Regions from separate parts of the Homo sapiens genome. Here all the other regions are linked to region 2. Evidence: fine-mapped expression QTL. A gene starts in region 2. Each other region holds a variant in brackets. All regions are shown on one strand. Distances are from middle to middle.

Region 1 (7,619 bases), 28 kb after region 2:
CATTTATTAAATTTTTGTATAATTAGTTGCTACATTGCAGGTATAGGAACTTCCAATATTAAGCATGATTACAAATACCTCAGTTTTCGTGTCTTTTTATTAATAGTCTAAAACTTATAAAATGCTTTGTGCATTTTATAAGTTATTGGTATAAGTTATAATGTTATTTTATAAGTTATTGGTATAAGTTATAATGTTATTGGTAACATTCTTTAGTATGAATTATCATTTGAAAAATGTTAAGAACATAGCTTTCCCATCTTATTTATTTTCTTGAGGTGGAGTCTCACTCTGTCGCCCAGGCTGGAGTGCAGTGGCGCGACCTTGGCTTACTGCAACCTCTGCCTCCTGGGTTCAAACTATTTCTCCTGCCTCAGCCTCCTGAGTAGCTGGGATTACAGGCACGGTCCACCACGACCGGCTAATTTTTGTGTCTTTAGTAGAGATGAGGTTTCACCATATTGGTCATGCTGGTCTCGAACTACTTACCTCAGGTGATCCACCTGCCTCGGCCTCCCAAAGTGTTGGGGTTACAGGTGTGAGCCACCACGCCAAGCCTATTTATTTTAGATACAGTGTCTTCCTCTGTTGACCAGGTTGAAGTGCAGGGGTGTAGTCATAGCTCACTGCAGGCTCAGACAGTCCTTCTGCCATGGCTTTCCAAAGTGCTGGGATTACAGGCATAGGCCACTGCACCTGGCCTAAATTGTGATAATTTTACAGTTTGCCTCAAACGAGGGTTGATGTCTGGGCAAGGTCTGCTGGGGGCCTCCCATATGCAGGCAGTCTCTCTGCTGTGCCCTCCACCAGCACTGAGGGTCACCTGCCCACAGGCACCCCTCTCCTTTCCCCTCTGGGGAAGGCCAGAAGTGACTTTTGAGGTTACCTGAGGGTCTTTGTCTGGAAAAGGGTGTGAAGCTGAAGCCGATGGCCTCAGTGTCCAAAGGGGAACACTTCCCACAGGCGTTGGGAAGCCACAGGCCTGACAGTGGGGTCCTGGTCTTGGCGGTCTCAGTCACCTGGCCACCCATTCCTTCCTCACTTAGGCATCCACCTGGCGGGCTGCCCACACCCTCTTCTGTCTGTGCTCAGCCAATCAGGCAAGCCAGGGTTACAGCCCTCCCTGTCCTGGGCCCTGGCTCCATGAAGCACCATGTGCCTTGGAAGACCTCCCCGATTGATCCTGTCTCCCCAGTATCTTCTGCTAAGGCAGAGGTTTCCCTGGGCCCCTGCTCTGGTCCGCTTCCTTGGCACAGTTTGTAGCTGTGCCTGACACAGCCCACCTGCCTGGCTTCTGTCTCAAACCCACAGCCAGGCCATGTGACAGCCGCTGCCTGTGCCCAAACATTCATCCAGCCCCACCCAGGAGAGCCAGACAGGCACTCATACCCTCACCCACACACCCCCACCCACACACCCCCACCCGCACACCCTCACCTGCACAATGTCACCCACACACCCTAACCCGCCTGGCCCTGCTGCGCCCCCACCCCACTCTCCCTCTAAACCTACTGGGGGAGCAGCTTCCCCTATATTTGCTTGCTCCACCTCCTCCTAGAGCTGGGTCACATACCAATTCCCACACTCTTGGCAGGTTGGTCATGGCCCTGGCAGGTCTGAGGACAGGATGGACACAGGACTGTGTGTAGCATAGAAAGGTCAGGGAGTGCAGCCTCCTACTCTGTGCCAGCTGCCAGCCCCGGAGCTTACTAGGCTGATGGGGACAAAGAATGCACCAGAGGGGACAGTGACCATTGTCCCTGGGTTAGTCCACCACAGGACTGATGGGAAGTTCATGGATGTACTGATTGCCCTGTTGCATTTGTCCTCAGGGGCGGATGCTGAGATGGAGTTAGGAGAGCAAAGGGGAGGAAGGGAGCTGGGCATGGTGGCTCATGCCTGTAAATCCTAGCACTTGGGGAGGCCCAGGTGGGAGGATTTCTTGAGGCCAGGAGTTTGAGACCAGCCTGGGCAACATAGCAAGACCCTGTCTCTACCAAAAAAAATTAAAAATTAGCCAGGTGTGGTGGCTGTATTCCCAGCTACTTGGGAGGCTGAGGTGGGCGGAACAGTTGAGCCTAGGAGTTGTCAATAGAAATCAAGTGTTGGGATATTGAGAATAGCAGCATAATGAGGGTCCAGAGTATGTTCTTAATACTAATGGTATAATTTCGAGCTTCTGATATATACACAAACATGTATAGCTACACCAGGGATTGTGCTCAAGATTTGACTTACATTAGCTTGTTTAAGCCTCTTCCACACACTATTTGAGGCAGGTACTGTTGTTATCATTTTATGGATGACAAAACTTAGAAGCAGAGCATTTAGGAAACTTGCCCAAGATCACACAGCCATGAAGCAGACACCAGAACCAGAGCCCTAGGCTCGCAAACTTCACTGCCTTCACTCCTAGGCTGTATGTTATTCTGACCATCTCTCAGCCAGGAAGTCACTCCCTTATGCAAATGACATTGTCTGTGCTGATGGTTAAATATTTCTATTCTCACAACATGTGAAAGAGAGAGCCTGATTTGTTAGCTAAGCCCCAAGGGTTTCTCCTACCATTTCAGAGAGAGAGAAACTTTTCTTTGCCCCTAAACTGTGGCAAAGAAAACAGAGAGGAGGAAACAGCCATCAGAAGACTAAAAATCTCTCATCTCTGCAAATAAGAATTCACTCTAACTGAGCTTTTCTGCATGCAGCACTGGGAAGAGACCTTGTTTTTTATTCTATCAACTTACCCATTTAACAATTTATTGAGAACCTGTTGTGTACCTGATGCACTGCTGGCATTGGGTATGTAAAAATCAATGCAGCATGGTCCTTTCCCCAAGCAACTCAGTTTCCTGCTTGGTTCTCTTTTCTGGATCATTTTAATTATGGTTCACCTTTTAAGTAAAGGACAAACAGAGAAGTAGCACTGAGTCAGATTTTTGCCACTAGTCTTATACAGGTGACATATTTTTCTTAATGCTCCCCACACATGGGATCTGAGCCAGCTGAGCCCTGAAACCTCCCAGGCTGAGAACGTAGTGTGGCACTTCACATGAGACTGCGCAGAAGTTGATACAACTGGCATGTTAGCCACAGGAACTCTGCCAAGCGTTCGGGAATAGAAGGGGTGGACAGGACCCCACCTGCTTTTCCTAATCTCATGGGTATCAGGCACCAGGCAGCCTTGCCCCTGGAATGAGACATCTCAGGTAGGGGTTGTCACTGTTCCAAGCTTCCTTTGATGCCGTTTTGATCCTGGATGTAGAGTTGCCACGTGGAGAGCGAAACCACCAGAATATATAATTGAGAAAGGAATGGAAAGATGGACAGATACCTAAATAGATACATAAATACTTTGCAGAAGTCTGGGACAGTGGAACGTAGGAAGAGAGCCTCAGATAGAGAGAGAACAGTAGGTTGATTGTGGTAAAGGGAAGGCTTCACTTTGTTATTCAATATAGTTATTTATTGACTTGTTTAAACAATATGTATGTCTTTAAAATTAAAAGATAATTTGGGGCCGGGCATGGTGGCTCACACCTGTAATCCCAGCACTTGGGGAGGCTGAGGTGGGGTGGATCACGAGGTCAGAAGTTTGAGATCAGCCTGGCCAGTATGGTGAAACCCCATCTCTACTAAAAATACAAAAAGTTAGCTGGGCCTGGTGGCAGGCACCTGTAATCCCGGCTACTCAGGAGGCTGAGGCAGGAGAATCACTTGAACCTGGGAGGCGCAGGTTGTAGTGTGGTGAGATCACGCCACTGCACTCCAGCCTGGGCGACAGGAGCGAAACTCTGTCTCAAAAAACAAAACAAAAC[A/C]AAACCTTGCATCCTTTCAGGGGGCTCACACCTCCCTAAGGGCCCAGTAATTAAACCCTTTGGGCCTGAGGGTGAGAAACTTTGTCTCAGTTCTTCCCCAAGTGATCAGCCCAGGTGTAAGGAAGGAGAAGCCAGAAAGCAGGACCCATGAGAAGGGCCCCCTCCTGGAGTTTGAGGCCCACTCCCTCCTGCCCCTGCCTCTCCTCTGTCCAGGACTCCTCCCTGCTCTGCCCCACTCCTGGGGCCATAACCATGGGGAGCTGTGGTTTTCTACAGGCCCCTGGGCACAAAGTGGGCAGGCTCACCTGGAGGCGATCAGAGTAACATGGCAGGAAGTGAGGGGGAAAGCCGCCCTGGAACTGCGCCTCTCTGCCCCCTGACGTCACTGGCGTGCACTCCTCCCTCCCCTCATTCAGGCAGTGGCATGAGTTCCATGTGAGCGCTGTCCTGCTCCCTCTGCTGCCTCTTTTTTTTCTTGGGGCTGCCATAACACTTTCCCTTCCCCAGCCCTGCCAACCTGGTGGGACATTGGGCTTCCCTCTCACAGGGTCCTGGGGACAGGCCCATCCTTTATCATACGCACAGAGAGACCGTTTTTTCCTTCAGGACCTGGGGAGCAGCCAGGTTCCATGAGTTAAATGCAGATCTGAACCAAGCTGGGATTGGGGTACACACTCTCCTCTACTGAAAAGTAGCTAGGGATTCCAACTAGGTGAGAAGGAGAGTGGGGCAGAGCCAGACCAGACAAGGACTGATCACCTGGAAAAAGCCTGCCATCAAAGGTCTTGGCAAATGCTGGGTGCAGTGGCTCACTCCTGTAATACCAGCACTTTGCGGGGCTGAGACAGGTGGACTACTTGAGGCAAGGAGTTCGAGTCCAGCCTGGGCAACATGGCAAAACCACATCTCTACTAGAAATACAAAAATTAGCTAGGCATGCTACACTCCTGTAATCCCAGCTACTCAGGAGACTGAGGCAGGAGAATCACTTGAACTGGGGAGGCAGAGGTCGAAGTGAGCCGAGATTGTGCCCCTGCACTCCAGTCTGGGAGACAGAGTGAAACTGGCCTCAAAAAAAAAAAAGAATATGGCCTTGGCAGAGAGGGGCCAGCCCAGCAGTGCCTTCCCTTGGGTTTCTCCTGGGTAGGCCTCTGCCATGAGGAGGTGCTTCCTTCTGCCTGTCCATGGCCCACAGCAATGGAATGTCTGCTTCTGGGGGTTGGGTGGGAGACTGCTGGCAGAACTGGAAACCTTCAGGTGGGGTTTTTTTGTTTTGTTTTGTTTTCGAGATGGAGCGTCGCTCTGTCACCCAGGCTGGAGTGCAGTGGTGGAATCTCAGTTCACTGCAACCTCCGCCCCCCTGGGTTCAAACAATTCTCCTGTCTCAGCCTCCTGAGTAGCTGAGATTACAGGCATGTGCCACCATGCCCGGCTAGTTTTTGTATTTTTTGTATAGATGGCATTTCACCATGTTGGCTGGGCTGGTCTCGAACTCCTGACCTCAAGTGATCCACCCACCTCGGCCTCCCAAAGTGCTGGGATTACAGGCATGAGCCACTGAGCCCAGCCCCTTCAGGGGGGTTTTGAGGCTTCACTACAATACTAGTTTCCTGTGGCTGCTGCAACAAATTACCACACACTTAGTGACTTAAAACAACCAAAATGTATTCCCTTACAAGTCTGAAGGCCAGAATTCTACAGTAAGTCCTTCTGAGTCAAGGTGGGAGCAGGGTTGGTGGCTTCTGAGGCTCTGCGGGAGAATCTGTTTCCTGGCCGTAGAGGTGGCCTGCACTCCTCAGCTTGTGCTGCCCGTCTTGAATGACTGGAGTTTCCTGCTTCTGTCACTACACCTCCCACCCTCTCCATCACCTGCTCTGCTCTTACAAGGATCCGAGTGAGTACATCAACCCCAAAAGCCAAAGACCCTTAACTTCATTATATCTGCAAAGCCCCTTTTGCCATATAAGGTCATGTTCACCAGTTCCCGGGATTAGGATATGGGCATCTGGGGGGCATCAGCCTGCTACAGCTAGGCTGCAAAACTGTTACACCCTCCTGGTGTTTCAGTGATTGGGAGAAAAAGGGTTGGCATTTTTTGCTTAGAGGTCCCTCTTAAACTTGTATCTGTAAGGTCGGGGGTCCCTCTTAACCTTGTGTTTTTGTTTTTGTTTTTTTTTGAGGTGGAGTCTTGCTCTGTCATCCAGGCTGGCAGTGGCGTGATCTTGGCTCACTGCAATGTCTGCCTCCTGGGTTCAGGTGATTCTCCTGCCTCAGCCTCCTGAGTAGCTGGGACTACAGGCGCCCGCCACCATGCCCTGCTGTTTTGTATTTTTGGTAGGGACGGGGTGGGGGTGGGGCTAGGGAGGGGGCTTTTGGCTATGTTGCCCTGAGCTCAAAGTGATCCGCCTGCCTCTGCTGCCAAAGTGCTGGGATTACAGGCCTGCACCACTGCACCCGGCTGCTGTAAAGTCTTATTTCACACAGCTGAGACATGTTTTAGGAAGTTTGCTAAAAGACCCCTGGAGACCGCCTCATTGTGACCTCCCTGTTATTGTGTTTAATTTGATTGAACTTCTCTGCCCTCCTGCTTTTCAGCTTCTCTAATAGTCTCCCATTAAACCATTCTAAGAACCACCAAAAAGGGGAAATTTTTTCTTGAAAGCAGTAAAATGATATGGACTGTTAGAATGTAAAATATATGAAATCAGTCATTATACGTTAGTGCTGCTCTGACATAGGGACGTATTATTGAGAAGCAACTTTTGCTTGATTTTCAGAGAAATGGAATCATCGTATCGCTGATCTATGTAAACAAACTGAAGAATTGTCTGAAAGAAAATATGGTATGTCTAAACTGGAAAAGTCCTGTAATCTTATGTTCATGGGCGTTTACACAATGGAGTTACTGTTCATCATGGGGGTACCGTGGACAAGCCCAGGGCTGCCGGCGAGTCATGCCATCCTTACACGTTTCTCCTTGTAAGGTGCTTTGTAGTGTCTACACACTTTGTTTCTAGATTGCTGCAAAGCTGAGGAAAAGTTGTATTTCTTTAGTTATTAGTTAGCATTTCTTTTAAACTTTCAGTATGGAGATTGGAAATTTATTTACATATTTATTGCAAAGCCCTGAATCTTAGGGATTTCATTGAATTATTTATTTATTTTTTTTGAGACAGAGCCTCACTCTGTCGCCCAGGCTGGAGTGCAGTGGCACGATCTCGGCTCTCTGCAACCTCCGCCTCCCGGGTTCAAGCAGTTCTCTGCCTCAGCCTCCCGAGCAGCTAGGATTACAGGCACCAGCCACCATGCCTGGCTGATTTTTGTATTTTTAGTAGAGATGGGGTTTCATGATCTTGGCTAGGCTGGTCTTGAACTGCTGACCTCCTGATCCACTCACCTCAGCCTCCCAAAGTGCTGGGATTACAGGTGTGAGCCGCCATGCCTGGCCAAATATTATTTTTTTAAATGAATTGTTTCTCTTAGTCTGTTTTGTTAAATTTGGAATTCATCCGGGTGCGGTGGCTCACACCTGTAATCCCAGCACTTTGGGAGGCCAAGGCAGGCAGATATCTAGGTCGGGAGTTCGAGACCAGCCTGACCAACATGGAGAAACCCCGTCTCTACTAAAAATACAAAATTAGACGGGTGTGGTGGCGCATGTCTGTAATCCCAGCTATTCGGGAGGCCAAGGCAGGAGAATCGCTTGAACCCAGGAGGCAGAGGTTGCGGTGAGCCGAGGTTGCACCATTGCACTCTAGCCTGGGCAAAAAGAGCAAAACTCCATCTCAAAATAAATAAATAAAT
Region 2 (7,619 bases):
TTCAATACTGTCCAGTCTTAAAGCTGCAGAGAATCGGGCTTTGCAGAACACTCCACTGTTTTTAATGGCATGAATTTAACAGTGTTTGGCATGGTGTCACTGCCCAACACTTTCAGATAACTCAACTGAAGAAGTTGACCCTATCTTCTGCAAAATAACATGAGTATATACTTGAGAAAAGCCTCAACATTTTTTTTTGGCTGCCATTTTTAGCTACCTCAAAGGAGATAACAGAAAAACAAGGAGTACTGATGATGGAAGCATCTGGTCCCTCTTGCAGAGTGATGAATGATTTTATTGGTGGCAGCTGGGTGGCAGGACAATCCAGGCATCCAGTTATGCCTGATCCCCAATAAGTGAAATCTTTGTTCATTTTCTTTTTATACACCCGTCTGCTTCCTAAAACCTGACACCATTTAATGGTGCCCTTGGTCAAATCTAAATGATCTTACTTTCATAATTCTTTGATTCTAGCTTGCAGAGTCAAGACGAACTCTAACTCATGGGATGGACAAACTGGAAGATGTAAAATAAGTAAGGCTTTCTGGGCCAAAAAGCCTCTTCTTACAGAAAATCAAATTTTAAAAGAACATTGACCTCAAAACAATAAAACTGTCCTGGTTATGCAATAGAAATAGCTATATAAATGGAATCATATCCTTAATGAACACCTCCTGTGGCTACCCAACTTTTCACACATCTTACTGATTATAGGCCTTGCTGTGAATGCTTTCTTGCTCTATCTGAAGTATTCCCACCAGAGTTGTTTCCAACTTTATTTCCTATATTATGAAAAATGAAGTTTTTTTAACATTGTAACAAAGTATATGAAAGATAATGTATACTGTATTAAATAAACCATTATACAAAAATAGTTCCTTGTACTGTTAACTATTATTATGACTTTGGTCAGTAAAATTCTAAATCATGCGACTATAATTTACATGTTTACCAATGGAAGGAAGTGACAATGAACTGCCTAAAGAATGAAAGAGACACCCAGGCATGGTGGCTCACATCTGTAATCCCAGCACTTTGGGAGGCCGAGGCGGGGGGATCAGGAGGTCAAGAGATTGAGACCATCCTGGCCAACATGGTGAAACCCCGTCTACACTAAAAATGCAAAAATTAGCTGGGCATGGTGGTGCGCACCTGTATTCCCAGCTACTTGGGAGGCTGAGGCAGGAAAATCGCTTGAACTCGGGAGGCGTAGGTTGCAGTGAGCCGAGATCGCACCACTGCACTCTAGCCTGATGACAGAGCGAGACTCCAGCTCAAATAAATAAGTAAATAAATAAATAAATAAAAATAAAAAAAGATTTGTGTCTTAACTGTGCACTTAACAATATTTACTATAAAATGGGGGAAGGGGATGATGATAAAAGTTAGCTGAGGAAGGCTGGGCACAGTGGCTCATGCCTGTAATCCCAGCACTTTGGGAGGCCCAGGTGGTGGATCTCCTGAGGTCAGGAGTTCAAGACCAGCCTGGCCAACATGGTGAAACCCCATCTCTACTAAAAATGCAAAATTAGCTGGGCATGGTGGCATGTGCCTGTAATCGCAACTACTAGGGGTGCTGAGGCAGGAGGATCGCTTGAACCCGGGAAACGGAGGTTGCAGTGAGCCGAGATCATGCCATTGCACTTCTGCCTGGGCAACAGAGCAAGATACCGTCTCAAAAAAAAAAGTTAGAAGAGAAATGGAAGGTTCTCTCTTTTCCTCAGCTTCAGTATACTAAAACCCAGAAGCATAGGACATAAGTTTTTTCCATGGGATACTTTAGTTATCACCTTGGGTGAAAACATGGTACTAGGATTTGTCCTTCAAGTCAGGTTAATGTAACAGAGGTAGCAGTGACTTATGGTTAGATTTGTGCCTTAACTGTGCACTTCCCAATATTTGCTATAAAATGGGGGCAGGGGGGTGATAATAATATCTAATACATGAAGCCTGTAGGACAGTGCTCTGTGTTTGTGTTTTGACTGCAACTCAAAGAAAGCAATATATTTTTAGATGAAGTATATACATGTATATATATATAACTTAAAAGTTTCATAAAGCAGTACTTACCCTTACTATGTTCCATGTGTTCTAATATTTTCTCTTACTTCATTTTGAGATAATGCTAGGCATGACCCATTTATTTTAAGACACACTAATTGGTCAAAAAACAATTTGAAAACCACTGCTATAGGAGAACACGAGGAAATATATTTTATAAACTGTAAAGCACTACTAAGACGTGAGCAGCGGCTGCTGCATATCCAGGTCAACCTTTATGGGCCTGAAGACAACCTCTCCTTCGTTTGGGCACTGCTAGGAGTCAAATCTACCTAGACTTTTGGTAAGGAAGATGGTACTCATGCTCATTGTCATTGAGACAATTATCTAATGCTTAGAAGTCAAGACTAGAAAGCAAGGCATTAACCATATCAGCACCCAAACAAGGGAAGACAAGTTACAAGAAAGCCAAATAAAACAGCAAACATTTGTTTAGTGCTTTATGGTTAACATATATGATCTCTTTTAATCCTTACAATCCTAGGGAAAAAGTGAAGCTCAAGGAGGTTGACACCTGCCCAAGACTAGACAGTAAGTGGCAGAGCCAGGTCATCTGATCCTAAATCCCGCACTCCTTCCACTATGATAAAATACCAGGAAAGAAAAGTGATCAGGATATGAGGCACATTCTGATCCATCAAAGATGCTTATATGCTTTGCCTTTCTCTAGAAGGAAAACGGACCCCACTGAAGGTAGAGATGCAATCCCAGACTTTCAGAGGGGGGGTGTGGCCAATTGCTATCAGTAGTTTAGGACTCACATCTGGCATTTCTGTCTACCAATACATCTATTTTGACACTGCTTGTGCTGAGGTCCCAAATGTCTATTATCTCCAAGTACTGTGGCTTTCTATTCCTATCTGTACCTGTCCCAGGGAATTGGTCAAGGACTCACATTAGGGAGAAATGAAGTACTGGGTATCTGTTACTCACGTCCCTTACACTTAGGTAGACTGCCAGTATTAGCAGTAGTGGTCCGCTTCCAGTGACCGTCATATTATCTGTTCAGCTTCCTCTGGGGAAGCCAATCTGCCCCAATCTTCATGGTTTTGTGTCTCCTTTTTTACCCATATGACCATCTCTCTCCACCGTGTCTCCCTCATCAAATAAAGAGAAGTTTAGCAACTAAGTACCTGAGGAGGTGGGAAAGGAATGCTACTCATTCCTCAGCTCTCCTAGTTACCTTTCCACTCCCTTCATCCCCCCACATTCCCTCATTTCTCTCACCTGGTACTCCTGCACCACCTCCTCCAAAGGCAGCACGCTGTGCTGTTTGTGGCTCCTGGATTCTCGGCACACCACACAGATGGCCTCTTTGTCCACCTCACAGAAGAGTTTCAGGGCTTCCTGGTGTTTAAAGCACATGCCCTGATCATTACTCCGGTTTCCCCGATAAGGAGTGGGGCACATCTGGCGAATTATCTGGACCATGTTGGCCAGCTGCAAGTTGGGACGAAAGCTGCGACGTGTAAAGCTCTTTCGGCACTGGGGGCAGGTGAACTGCCCTGGAAGGGGCAAGGAAGGAGGCGGGTGGATGTCAGGATACAGCTCTTCATCTTCGTCCTCATCGTATGCTTCCAGTATTTCTTCTTCTCGGTAGACATCAATTCTCAGGTCAGGTCTCAAGCCTCCTAGGTAATAGTCCTGATCTTCCTCTTCTTCTTCTTCCTCCTCGTCCCACATATAGTCTACGTTGTCCCAATTAGTTATACCACTGTCACCGAGCCAGAGTTCATCGTCATCTTGGTCTTGGAACAACTCTTCGTCAGCATTCCCCCGATACAACACCTCTCGAATGGAGCCGTCCCATCCATCCATGGCCCCCACCGCTTCCTCGTCCTCCTCCTCCTCCCATTCATCTTCCTCCTCGTTCTGGTCCTCCTCGTCCTCCTTACTCCACAGCTGGGTCACACACCCTCGGCAGAAGTTGTGCCCACAGCTGATGGACACGGGGTCCTTGAAGTAATCCAAGCAGATGGCACACACCGCTTCCTCCTGAAGGGTCTGCATGGGGCTGGGAGTAGTGGCATAACCAGCCATCTTAATGCCCGCCGGCAGGTGTAGATACGTCAGCTTGGAGCTGAGGAGCGGGGACGCGCCTGCAGGCCTGCCTCCAAACTACTCTGGTGACCCGAGGCTGTCCTCAACCTTGCTCTTCTTCCTCGGGGCCGCAGGGGAGCTTTGACCCCCTCTCTCAGGGTGCGAACGCCCAGATCCAGACTCACAGCCTCTCTCTGGGATCGGTGGGGACAGAGCAGGCTGCAGCCCCCAGCTGCTCGGTCCTGTCACGTCTCTCGCTACCCTCAGGGTGTGCCCTACACTGCGGCGTCCGCCTCAGATGCAGCCGCTGGCTACCCTGCCCGAGGCGACGCAAAATGACGTCTCGCTCCTGCACACGCTCTGGAGAGACGCTCTAGGCCGGCGGAGGACCACGTCTCTATGGTGTGCCGGGGGCCGCGCGGGCCGGGAGTTGGGTGGGCTGGGGGACAGGCGCGCCCGCGCCGCCCGCTCCAGCTGGGCTAGTGCTGCACATTCCGGCCAGCCCCTCCTCAAGACCCCATTCCCAAGCCCCTTCTCAGCTCCCTCGGGCCGGCAGAGCGGCTCTGATCAGGTCAGCGGCGGACGCCGGGAAGAGGCCCGGCTTGGGAGAGGTGGTTTGGTGGGTTGGCTGGTTCTAGATGGTGGGGGGGTCAACACTTGAGGGGGACTGGGTCTCCGAGCCGTTGTCCAGCCTGAGCCGGAGCCCCAGGAAGGTTAGAGGGAAGGGGGATAAATCTCTCCGGAAGCCCCGCCCGGGCCGGGGCCGAGTTGGTCCGCGGCGGTGGGGAAGCCTGGGACACCACCCTGGTGCTGTCGCCCGTCCCGCCGTCCGCGCTTGGGGTGCCTTTGTGGGGATCCGGGCGCCGCACAGCTGGGAGGGCCTGCCGCCCGGGAGGCTCGGATCCGGGGCGCCCAGTGCCCCCCGCTGCCTTCCGTGAGCCGTCGGGCCCCAGCTCCACGTAGGCCTCAGACCCAGCCCTGTTTCTGCTTGCGGGGCCGCGGCTGCGCAGTATTGCGGCGTCTGCCAGCAAAGCTGCGCCCCGGTCGTGGGTCCCCTGAGGGGGCCGGGGCTCAAGTTCCCTTCGGTGCTGCCGCCTGCGTCGGGCCAGGGTTCCGAGTTCCAGCCCTGAGCTCTGTGAGCTCGGCCGGGAGGGGGCTGGATTTGGGACCACACTTCCTCACCGCCGTGGTTTAGACTTAGTTTGAGAGCGGCTGGCCCCTCCTTCCTGTCCCGGTGTCCTCCGCTGTCTGTTATGCCCTTCACTCCTCCCTGGGGAGGGAGGGCTGGGGGCGCTGTCTGGGTCTGTTTTCCACCCCAGCGGGGCCCTAGGGCAGTGTCATTTAGACTCCACTCTGTCACCTTTCCTGGAGAGGGGACCTGATCCAGGGCTGAGAGGTTTTTTTTTTTTTTTTTTTTTTTGAGATGGAGTCTGGCTGTTGCCCAGGATGCAGTGCAGTGGCGCGATCTCGGCTCACTGCAAGCTCCGCCTCCCAGGTTCACGCCACTCTCCTGCCTCAGCCTCCCGAGTAGCTGGGACTACAGGCGCCCGCCACCACGCCCGGCTAATTTTTTTTTTTTTGTATTTTTAGTAGAAACGGGGTTTCACCCTGTTAGCCAGGATGGTCTCGATTTCCTGACCTCGTGATCCGCCCACCTCGGCCTCCCAAAGTGCGGGCTGAGAGATCTTACAGTGGGAGGGGGAATCAGGCCCTGGGGAAAGGCTTCTCAGGGGTTGTCTCCTTCTGTCTTCTGTCTCTGCAGGTAGGGATAGAACCAGGTCAGGCCTGGATTTGTAGTCCCAGAGAACAGAGGATGGAGATGGGGGCTGGACGCAGCTCAGAGGGGCTGGTGCTCATGGGCTCTGTGTATGCCTTCTCCTGTGGCCTGGTTCTGTGTACAGATGTTCTACCCCAGTGCTGAGGGCCAAGACACCCTCTTGGCCTTGGTGCTGGGGGCATCCTGGGGCAAGGAGTGTAGGCAGAACTCCTCAACATTGGAGATTTGGGGAAATTGTGTCCCCTCCCTTTTAGACTCCTGTAGCCCCCTGCAGTGGCACGATCTGGGCCCACAGCAATCTCCACCTCCTGGGCTCAAGCAGTCCTCCCACTTCAGCTTCTGGAATAGCTGGGAACACAGGCATGCACCACCACTCCAGGCTAATTTCTTTATTTTTTTATAGAGACAGGGTTTCGTCATGTTGCCCAGGCTAAAGTGCCGTGGCTATTTATAGTCACGATTATTGCACCCTACCACCTCAAACTCCTGGACTCAAGTGATCCTCCCGCCTCAGCCTGTGGAGTAGCTGGGACTACAGGCATGCACCACTATGCCTGATTTACCCATTCTCTTTTAGATTTTTTTTTTTTTTGAGAGAGGGTCTTGCTCTGTTGCCCAGGCCAAATGCAGTGGTATGATCATGGCTCATTGCACCCTTGACCCCTGGGCTCAAGTGATCATCCTGCCTCAGCCTCCCAAGTAGCTGGGACTACAGGTGTGCATTACCACATCTGGCTAATTTTTATTATTTTTTTTTTTGTAGAGATGAGGTCCTGCTATGTTGCCCAGGCTAGTCTTGAACTCCTGGTTTAAGCAGTCCTGCCTCAGCCTTACAAAGTGCGGGAATTACAGATGTGAGCCACTACGCTCAGCCCCATACAAGGTTTTTTTTCTTTCTTTACCTGCCCTTCAATAAGAAGTACATTGCACATACTGATCCAATATAGACCTGCACATATATAACAGAAAGAAAATTTCTGCAGTGTTCTTTCCCTTATGACATCCAAAGCACTCTGATATTTTCTGTTTTATTTCAGTAAAATGCTGTTGAAGGCCCACGGGCATGACTGCACCCCTCACTAATTGGTCATTGGTTTGGGGAGGACACCACTGTCCCAGTGGAACCTTGAGCACACCTTGGAGCCCTCCTCTTCCTCTCCGGACCTGTGCCAAACTGTGAGTGGCACAGAGCAAGGACTGTATGTGTTCTCTTCTTTGTTGCATACTCAGTTCCTTGACCACAGTGCCAAGCACACAGCGAGCACTCCCTGTGTATCTGCTGAGTAAATAAACGAATGAACAAACCCAACACATTTCAGCCAAGTCCTGCTGATGTTTCTCCTCCGATCTAGCTCCTCCTTTCCAGCCTTACTTCTGCCACTCCAGATTTCACCCCCATCAGCTTCAGACTGGATAAAAGGAAACCATTTCTCTAAAGGATCACTTGCTCTCTCATTTCAGGCCATCCTGCAGCCACCAGAACCTTCCACATGAAATGAAAGGCTCACCACTTCATAGGCTTTAAGGAAATTCTTGGCCAGGTGTGGTGCCTCACTCATGTAATCCCAGTGCTTTAAGAGGCCAAGATGGGAGGATTGTTTGAGCCAGCTGTTTGAGACCAGCCTGGGCAACGTCATGAGACCCCATCTCCACAAAAAAAAAAAAAAAGAAAATTGGCTGGGTGCGGTGGCTCATGTCTGTAATCCCAGCAATTTTGGAGGCTGAGGCGGGTGGATCACTT
Region 3 (7,619 bases), 21 kb before region 2:
TAGAGCTGGGTAATAAATGTCTATTCTCCTGGGGAGGAGGGATTCTAAACTTTCCTTCCGTCCTCAATTTCTACCTCCATAGACCGGCCAGAATTTAGCTTCACTTGAGAGAGATCTGGAATGGTCGCCATGATTGAAACCACGCACCATTACATCATCATTACATTAATTACATCAACATAAATTATTTCTTCCCCCTTCCCTTTTCCAGCACTCAACCAAGGAGCAAAGCTCATCCCACCCCACACCCCTCCCAGGTCTGCTCACTGCCAGGCTCCTCTCCCCTTTGTTCAGTGGAGCTGGCTTTTCTCCCAGCCCCTTTCCATGCCTTTCACTCCATTTGGCAAGCTCTGAGGGGGAGCCTGGGGACGGGTTTGGGTCCCCAGGAGGAGAGCCTTGGGTATAATCTATTTTTCTAGGAGCCTCTTGCCTTGTCACTTGCAGCTTTCGCCCTCTGCTTTGATGGCTGAGGTGAACTCATGTTCTTTGGGAAAAGGGAAGGCGTGCTGTGGAAATAAAATGTTTATTTGCTTCTCTTGTGAGGTCTGTTCCTTCAGGTGAGGGTGTAACTCAGGATTTCTTCCTTTGCCGCCCCTGCAGTGAGAAGCCACACAACTGAACTGGTTAGTTGCAGTTAAAGGCATGCTTTGCACCTGTTACCAGGCAGGCTCCTATTTCAACAGGGATGTGGACCCTGCTCCCCATTTTAATATCTTAACCTAACTTACTAACTGTTCAGTCTACTTAGAGATGTTTGCCACACGTAGTTGAAACTGAAGCCAGAAATGCCTCATCACCATTATAAATTGAGGGGAGTAGGAAGTGGAGGGTGCATGTGGGCCTTCAATATGCTGTAGTTGCTTAGCACAGAAAATTGCAAGGGTAGTGGGGTCTCAGCCGCATGTTGAACCATTCCATCCCTGTACTGAGGTTTCTATTGGAAACTGTAATTGTAGTTTAATGGCTCACTTCTGGCCTTTCACAAGGCATCTATCCTCATGAATAAACTGTGTTTGTGTGTAGGGGGATTGAGGGCCAGGTTATAGTAGCAGTTGAAATGTTTAGTAGGGCCAACTTTATGGTTCTATTTATGAATGCTTCCAGACCAACCACCCCAAAACTTTTGACCTGAGGAATAAATTAGTTTTGAATTAAGTTCTTCTGGTGAGAACTGCCTTGCTTAAAGAATTAAAAACCCTTGACTTTCCTCAAAGACCATGTTGACAGAGACTGCTAACATGAAGCTTAAGTTTTCTGAATTATGTTCAAATCTTTAGAGGAATGAGGATTCATCTTCCACTCTTACGTGTCAGGGGTTGGACCTGCGGAGTCTGCTTTTTCTAAAAATTGACTGCAACCACTTTGAAATCAGTTCTTTCCCTCAAGAAGGTTCCCCAGGTTGAAGGTAGGCCCTGATGATCTGCACGTGGTATGTAGGACGCTGATGGGGTTTAAGTTCAGGGAAACTGCTATGTGACTTCTCACAAACATCCCACCTGATGCTACCCCAATCCTGAGAACTTAGACGGACAGCTCCCCTTCAAAGCCTTGTTTACTTAGTCCATACCTTGCATCCAGTTCGCTAGTGCAAACTTAATGTGTAAGCAATGTAGATAGAATGGAGCTTTTTTGCATATAAGAAAAAAAAACCTAAAAGTCAGAAAAGCCAGTTTTTTTTTTATTTGTAAAGCTCTGCCATAAACTTCTAGCGTGTGCCAATGGTCACCTGCCACACTCGCACCAGGTTGTCCGTGTAGCCAGCAAACAGAGTCTGCAGGGAAGAAATGACAGTGACAGGTCAGGCTGGCATAAATTCTGCAGTCTCACTAGATTCAGCCCAAGTGGCTTTTTTTGAGATCCGTCCACCTTGCTCCATTGTCTAGGCTGGAGTGCAGGGGTGCGATCCTGGCTCACTACAGCCTTAAGCCCCTGCAGTTCAAGAGATCCTCCCACCTCAGCCTCCAGTAGGCATGTGCCACAACGCCGGGTAGACTGTAAGAAACCGCTCTCATTTCAACAGCCAGCTTGTAAGTGGTGGTTATGTATTCCTTGAGGAAGAAACAGCTGGTGATAAGGCTCCAGACATTTGAAAACTGGTCAGATTAATTAAGGTATTAATTGAAGGCTGACAGCCACTGCGTTCCACATCAGTCTTCCCTCTGATGCAGAAACACATTCACTGGCATGGCAAACGAGGGCATCCTCATCAACCTGGCTTGTCATTTCACTTTATGCCAAGGACACTGCTCTTGTGTCTGACAGACTAGATATACTAACAGAATGAGAGGGAGAAAATTAACTGGAAGCAGAATCACCTGAGAGGACAGACCCACTTACCTGGCCATCAGCAGACCAGGCCAGGGAGGTGCACTGGGGTGGTTCTGCCTTGCTGCTGGTACTGATAACTTCTTGCTTCAGTTCATCTACAATGATCTTTCCCTCTAAATCCTGGGGAACAGGGCAAAAGCAACCTTAAGACTTACCAATCAAGAGAGTCTCCTCTTAAAAGCCCCTCAAGATTCTCAAGTTAAAAAGGGATGATTTTGCTCCCTGGGGTCCATGTATCAATGCCTACATGCATTTTCAGTTGCCACTAGTGGAAGGATGGTTTGCTACTGACATCTAGTAGAAGCTGGAAATGCTGCTAAACATCCTGGAATGTACAGGACTGCACACCACAACAGAGTTACTCAGACCAAAATGTCATTACGTGGAGGCTGAGAAAGCTTAGCTCCCAGGTGGGAGTCAGATGGCATATATAATAACCAAAACATTGCCAGGGCTCAGAGTGCAGCCAGGTACCCAGTCAATTGTAACCCACACTCACCCAGATCTTGATGCTGGGGCCTGTGGCAGCACACAGCCAGTAGCGGTTAGGGCTGAAGCACAGGGCGTTGATGATGTCCCCACCATCTAGCGTGTAAAGGTGTTTGCCTTCGTTGAGATCCCATAACATGGCCTGGCCATCCTGGACACAGGTAAGGTAAATCAGGACACTGTGACCTCTTCCAGATGTTAATTCTGCCCATCTCAAGATTCTGTCAGAATCAATTCTTACCTTTCCTCCATTACCCCAGGCTTCTTTGAAAGCTAATGACTCAAGTACCAATATTTATCTCTGTATACCTTTCCTTTAACGTAAGACCTTACCAACCCCATCAAAAAACCCCTCCCAACTTACATAAATCACTCCAATCATTTCTGAAAACCAGGATCCCAATCTCATCAACTGCTTCAAGAAACCAACTTTAGGCTGGGTGCGGTGGCTCATGCCTGTAATCCCAGCACTTTGGGAAGCCGAGGTGGGCGGATCACCTGAGGTCAGGAGTTCAAGACCAGCCTGGCCAACATGGTAAAATCCTCTCTACTAACATACAAAAATTACCCAGGAGTGATGGCGGGTGCCTGTAATCCTAGCTACTCGGGAGGCTGAGATGGGAGAATTGCTTGAACCCGGGAGATGGTTGCAGTGAGCCGAGATCGCGCCACTGCACTCCAGCCTTGGCAGCCGAGTGAGACTCCGTCTCAAAAAAAAAACAAAAAACAAACAAACAAAAAAACAACAAAAAAAACCCACAGGCTTATAGAAAATCATCTTTTTCTTCCAGATAGTATGCCTTAACTGTCATTTGCTGAAAGTAATCTTTGGAAACATATTCTCAGATTGCCATTATCTCATTATCCTCCTAAAACCATCTTGGCTAATGTTTGCCATTTTACGTTAGAGACGCTGGCTAAGTGCTCCTTCCATGACGCTGTCTTCCACTGAGTAGGAGACGCCTTGTCCCCAAATACCTTGCCTCCAGAAGCACAGAGGGATCCATCTGGAGAGACAGTCACCGTGTTCAGATAGCCTGTGTGGCCAATGTGGTTGGTCTTCAGCTTGCAGTTAGCCAGGTTCCATACCTGCATAGACGTGCGGTTGACAGGTGAACATCCTAGCTCTTGATGAGCTAGGGTCAGGCCCAACAAAAAAGGGCTTGGCACTTCTGGATACGGTAGCCATTTCTCATTCAGTAACATGTCCTGGCCACTTCACGTTAGATTATAACACATATCCAATGCAGTGTGCTGACTTACAAGGGACATCAGACCATGTGACAAGAGAAAGAGTCAACTGAGGGCATCTGCAAAGCTTTCCACAGGACTTGGAGTGTATGACCACCTGGGAGCACACCCTGACTGGTAAAGCCCCTGCCTTGGCTTGACGCTCACCTTGACCAGCTTGTCCCAGCCACAGGAGACGATGATAGGGTTGCTGCTGTTGGGCGAGAAGCGGACACAAGACACCCACTCTGAGTGGCTCTCATCCTACAGAAGATGGAAAGGAAATTAGGGCAAACAGTCCTATCCCATGAAATGCTAGACCTCCCAGCCCTACCCCTCAGTAGGATGATGGCTGGCAGCACCTTTCAAAAACCAAGAACCCAAACCTTTAAGCTCAATAGAATCCCTTTAGATTCCAGACAAGAAAATTTTTTAAAAATTTAGAGATGGTGGCTGGACGCAGAAGCTCACGCCTCTAATCCCAGGGAGGGCGAGGTAAGTGGATCACCTGAGGTCAGGAGTTTGAGACCAGCCTGGCCAAAATGGTGAAACCCTGTCTCTACCAAAAATACAAAAATTAACCAGGTGTGGCGGCGGGTGCCTGTAATCCCAGCTACTGGGGAGGCTCAGGCAGGAACACTGCTTAAACCCAGGAAGCGAAGGGTGCAATGAGCCAAGATTGTGCCATTGCACTCCAGCCTGGGCAACGAACAAGTGAAACTTCATCTCCAAAAAAAATATAATAATAATAATAGGGCCTGGTGTGGTGGCTCACGCCTGTAATCCCAGCACTTTAGGAAGCCAAGGTGGATGGATCATGAGGTCAGGAGATCAAGACCATCTTGGCTAACATGGTGAAACCCTGTCTCTACTAAAAATACAAAAAATTAGCCAGACCTGATGGCAGGCGCCTGTAGTCCCAGCGACTCGGGAGGCTGAGGCAGGAGAATGGCGTGAACCCGGGAAGCAGAGCTTGCAGTGAGCCGAGATCGCAC[T/C]ACTGCACTCCAGCCTGGGCGACAGAATGAGACTGTCTCAAAACAAAACAAAATAGTAGTGATAAGGCCGGGCACGGTGACTCACGCCTGTTATCACAGCAGTTTGGGAGGCTGAGGCGGGCGGATCACCTGAGGTCAGGAGTTTGAGACCAGCCTGGCCAACATGGTGAAACCCCATCTCTACTAAAAATACAAAAATTAGCTGGGCATGATGGCACACGCCTGTAATCTTCTCAGACACCCAACCATCGGCTTCTGAGCTGCGGCAACTCCCTTTCACCTTTTCACCGCCCCCCACCCATCCCCAAATCCCCGATCCAGCCCCCAATCTGCGATCCCAAATCTGCGATCTAGCCCAGAATCCATCTCAAAAAAGAAAAAAAATAAATAAAATTTTGTTTAAATAGATGGGGTCTCACTATGTTGGCCAGGCTGCTCTCCTGTCCTCAAGCAGTCCTCCCACCTTGGCCTACCAGAGAGCTAGGATTACAGGCGTGAGCCCAGCCCAGACAAGACTTTAAAAAGGCAAAGAAAGCGGGGGACGGTGGCTCACGCTTATAATCCCAGCACTTTGGGAGGCTGAGGCGGGCAGATCACCTGAGGTTGGGAGTTCAAGACCAGCCTGACCAACATGGAGAAACCCTGTCTCTACTAAAAATACAAAACCGGGCATGGTGGCGCATGCCTCTAATCCCAGCTACTTGGGAGGCTGAGGCAGGAGAACTGCTTGAACCCAGGAGGCGGAGGTTGTGGTCAGCCGAGATCACGCCATTGTACTTCAGCCTGGGGAACAAGCGAAACTGTCTCCGAGAAAAAAAAAAAAAAAGGCAAAGATAGGCAGGTGGGGGCTCACGCCTGTAATCCCAACACTTTGGGAGGGCGAGGCAGGCAAATCGCCTGAGCCCAGGAGTTTGAGACCACCCTGGGCAACATGGTGAAACCCTGTCTCTACTAAAACACAAAAAATTAGCTAGGCGTGGTGGCTGCGCACCTGTAGTACCAGCTACTCGGGAGACTGAGGCACCAGAATCCCTTGAGCCCGGGAGGCAGAGGTTGCAGTGAGCCGAGACTGCGCCACTGCACTCCAGCTTGGGCAAGAGTGAGACTGTCGCCAAAAAAAAAAAAAAAAAGCAAAGTTTAAGAGGGTGGAAGAGATCCTTGGAGATGGCTCACTTTACCTGGACAGTGTATTTGCACACACCCAGGGTATTCCATAGCTTGATGGTTTTATCTCGAGATCCAGAGACAATCTGCCGGTTGTCAGAGGAGAAGGCCACACTCAGCACATCCTTGGTATGGCCCACAAATCGCCTCGTGGTGGTGCCCCTGAGAGGGAGGAGTTTGTCATTCTCAGACTTAGCAAACACTCTCATTCAACGGTCAGACTCATTTCCTGGGCTTTGTCTCTGTCTCATTGCATCACTCATACAACCCTGGATTTGGCTCTGATCACAGAGTCAAGTGACTGAGTATATGAAAGAGAAGAGCCAAGTGACAGAGAATCCCTTCAGAATTGCAGGACATGTCCTCACTCCCACTTGGGGATTGGCTGACAATGCCATCTGTCATCACCAGGACCCTCTAATTCCACCTGCCAATTACCTGAGCTTTCAAGGTAAAACATGTTCAAACTGCTGCCCACTCAGAACTTTTGCACCTGGCAAAAATGTTCAGCCACACTCCTCAGCAATGCTGAGTAACTTATTTAAAGTGAGGGAGGCCAAACATCTTCTGTAGGTGTGCTCTGCTTTCCAGTTCCCAAATGGACTGGATCTCCCCTGGGAAACCAGCCAATTGCATCCACCTCACTTCTGCCCAGATTCTTCCCAAGGCCCCAGAGCTAAGTGAGCAGCTACTTGCGTTGTGAGATCCCAGAGGCGCAGGGTTCCATCCCAGGAGCCTGAGAGGGCAAACTGGCCATCTGAGGAGATAACCACATCACTAACAAAGTGGGAGTGACCCCGCAGAGCACGCTGTGGAATTCCATAGTTGGTCTCATCCCTGGTCAGTTTCCACATGATGATGGTCTTATCTAAAGGAGGTAAAACAGAAGAAAAATCAGTGAGGAACCCGCAGCCCGTTTAACACACTGGATAATTCACTAAGTGTCAAGGTCATGAGTGGGTTAACAACAACTAAGGACGCTTAAGGAGGGATGGAAACAACAGACAAGAGCAGTTACAGACCAGGACTGAGTGGCTCTATTCCAGACTAAAAACGCACGTAGAGGTAAACTGTACCCTGATAACTTTTTTTTTTCTTGAGATGGAGTCTCGCTCTGTCGCCCAGGCTGGAGTGCAGTGGCATGATCTCGGCTCACTCCAAACTCCACCTCCCGTGTTCAAGCAATTCTCCCGCCTCAGCCTCCCAAGTAGCTGGGATTACTTGGCCAGCTGGCACCTGCCAGCACGTCTGGCTAATTTTTTAACTAGAGATGCGGTTTCACCATTGGCCAGGCTAGTCTCTAACTCCTGATCTCAAGTGATCCACTCGCCTCTGCCTTCCAAAGTGCTGGGATTATAGGCGTGAGCCACCGCGCCCAGCCTGTATCCTGAGAACTTAATTTAGGTGCCAGAA

Alleles and levels. Positions count from the first base shown, and alleles are read on the strand shown. Sizes are in standard deviations (SD) of each study's normalised expression. Not every link is listed here.
With allele A in place of C in region 1, the expression in vagina of the gene that starts at base 4,500 in region 2 is higher (moderate effect, 0.56 SD a copy in GTEx).

What was found.
Region 1: its variant is fine-mapped to the expression of TRIM52-AS1 in vagina (GTEx, PIP above 0.99). The same link has a PIP of 0.9 or more in prostate and substantia nigra.
Region 3: its variant is fine-mapped to the expression of TRIM52-AS1 in whole blood (TOPMed, PIP above 0.99).

The regions. Positions count from the first base shown.
Region 1 is chr5:181,285,081-181,292,699 of GRCh38, forward strand. No RefSeq gene overlaps it. Among named protein-coding and RNA genes, the nearest start is that of TRIM52-AS1, 28 kb to the left of the region's middle. The variant A/C (reference allele first, on the strand shown) is at 3,816.
Region 2 is chr5:181,256,713-181,264,331 of GRCh38, forward strand. It overlaps TRIM52-AS1 (TRIM52 antisense RNA 1), which reads left to right and starts at 4,500. Exons shown (of 3, transcript NR_102762.1): 1 at 4,500-4,672. It overlaps TRIM52 (tripartite motif containing 52), which reads right to left and starts at 4,431. Exons shown (of 2, transcript NM_001346048.2): 1 at 3,289-4,431; 2 at 1-147. The coding sequence starts at 4,101. The coding sequence ends at 97. CTC-338M12.4 (a long non-coding RNA gene) reads left to right here. Exons shown (of 3, transcript NR_109909.1): 3 at 475-874. RefSeq lists enhancers at 4,132-4,181, 4,362-4,411 and silencers at 4,552-4,701, 4,812-5,061.
Region 3 is chr5:181,235,272-181,242,890 of GRCh38, forward strand. It overlaps RACK1 (receptor for activated C kinase 1), which reads right to left. Exons shown (of 8, transcript NM_006098.5): 2 at 6,903-7,074; 3 at 6,221-6,368; 4 at 4,216-4,311; 5 at 3,796-3,906; 6 at 2,828-2,968; 7 at 2,338-2,448; 8 at 1,626-1,771. The coding sequence ends at 1,706. It overlaps SNORD96A (small nucleolar RNA, C/D box 96A), which reads right to left and starts at 6,618; the gene lies at 6,547-6,618. TRIM41 (tripartite motif containing 41) reads left to right here. Exons shown (of 6, transcript NM_033549.5): 6 at 1-537. RefSeq lists enhancers at 856-935, 6,249-6,298. The variant T/C (reference allele first, on the strand shown) is at 5,043.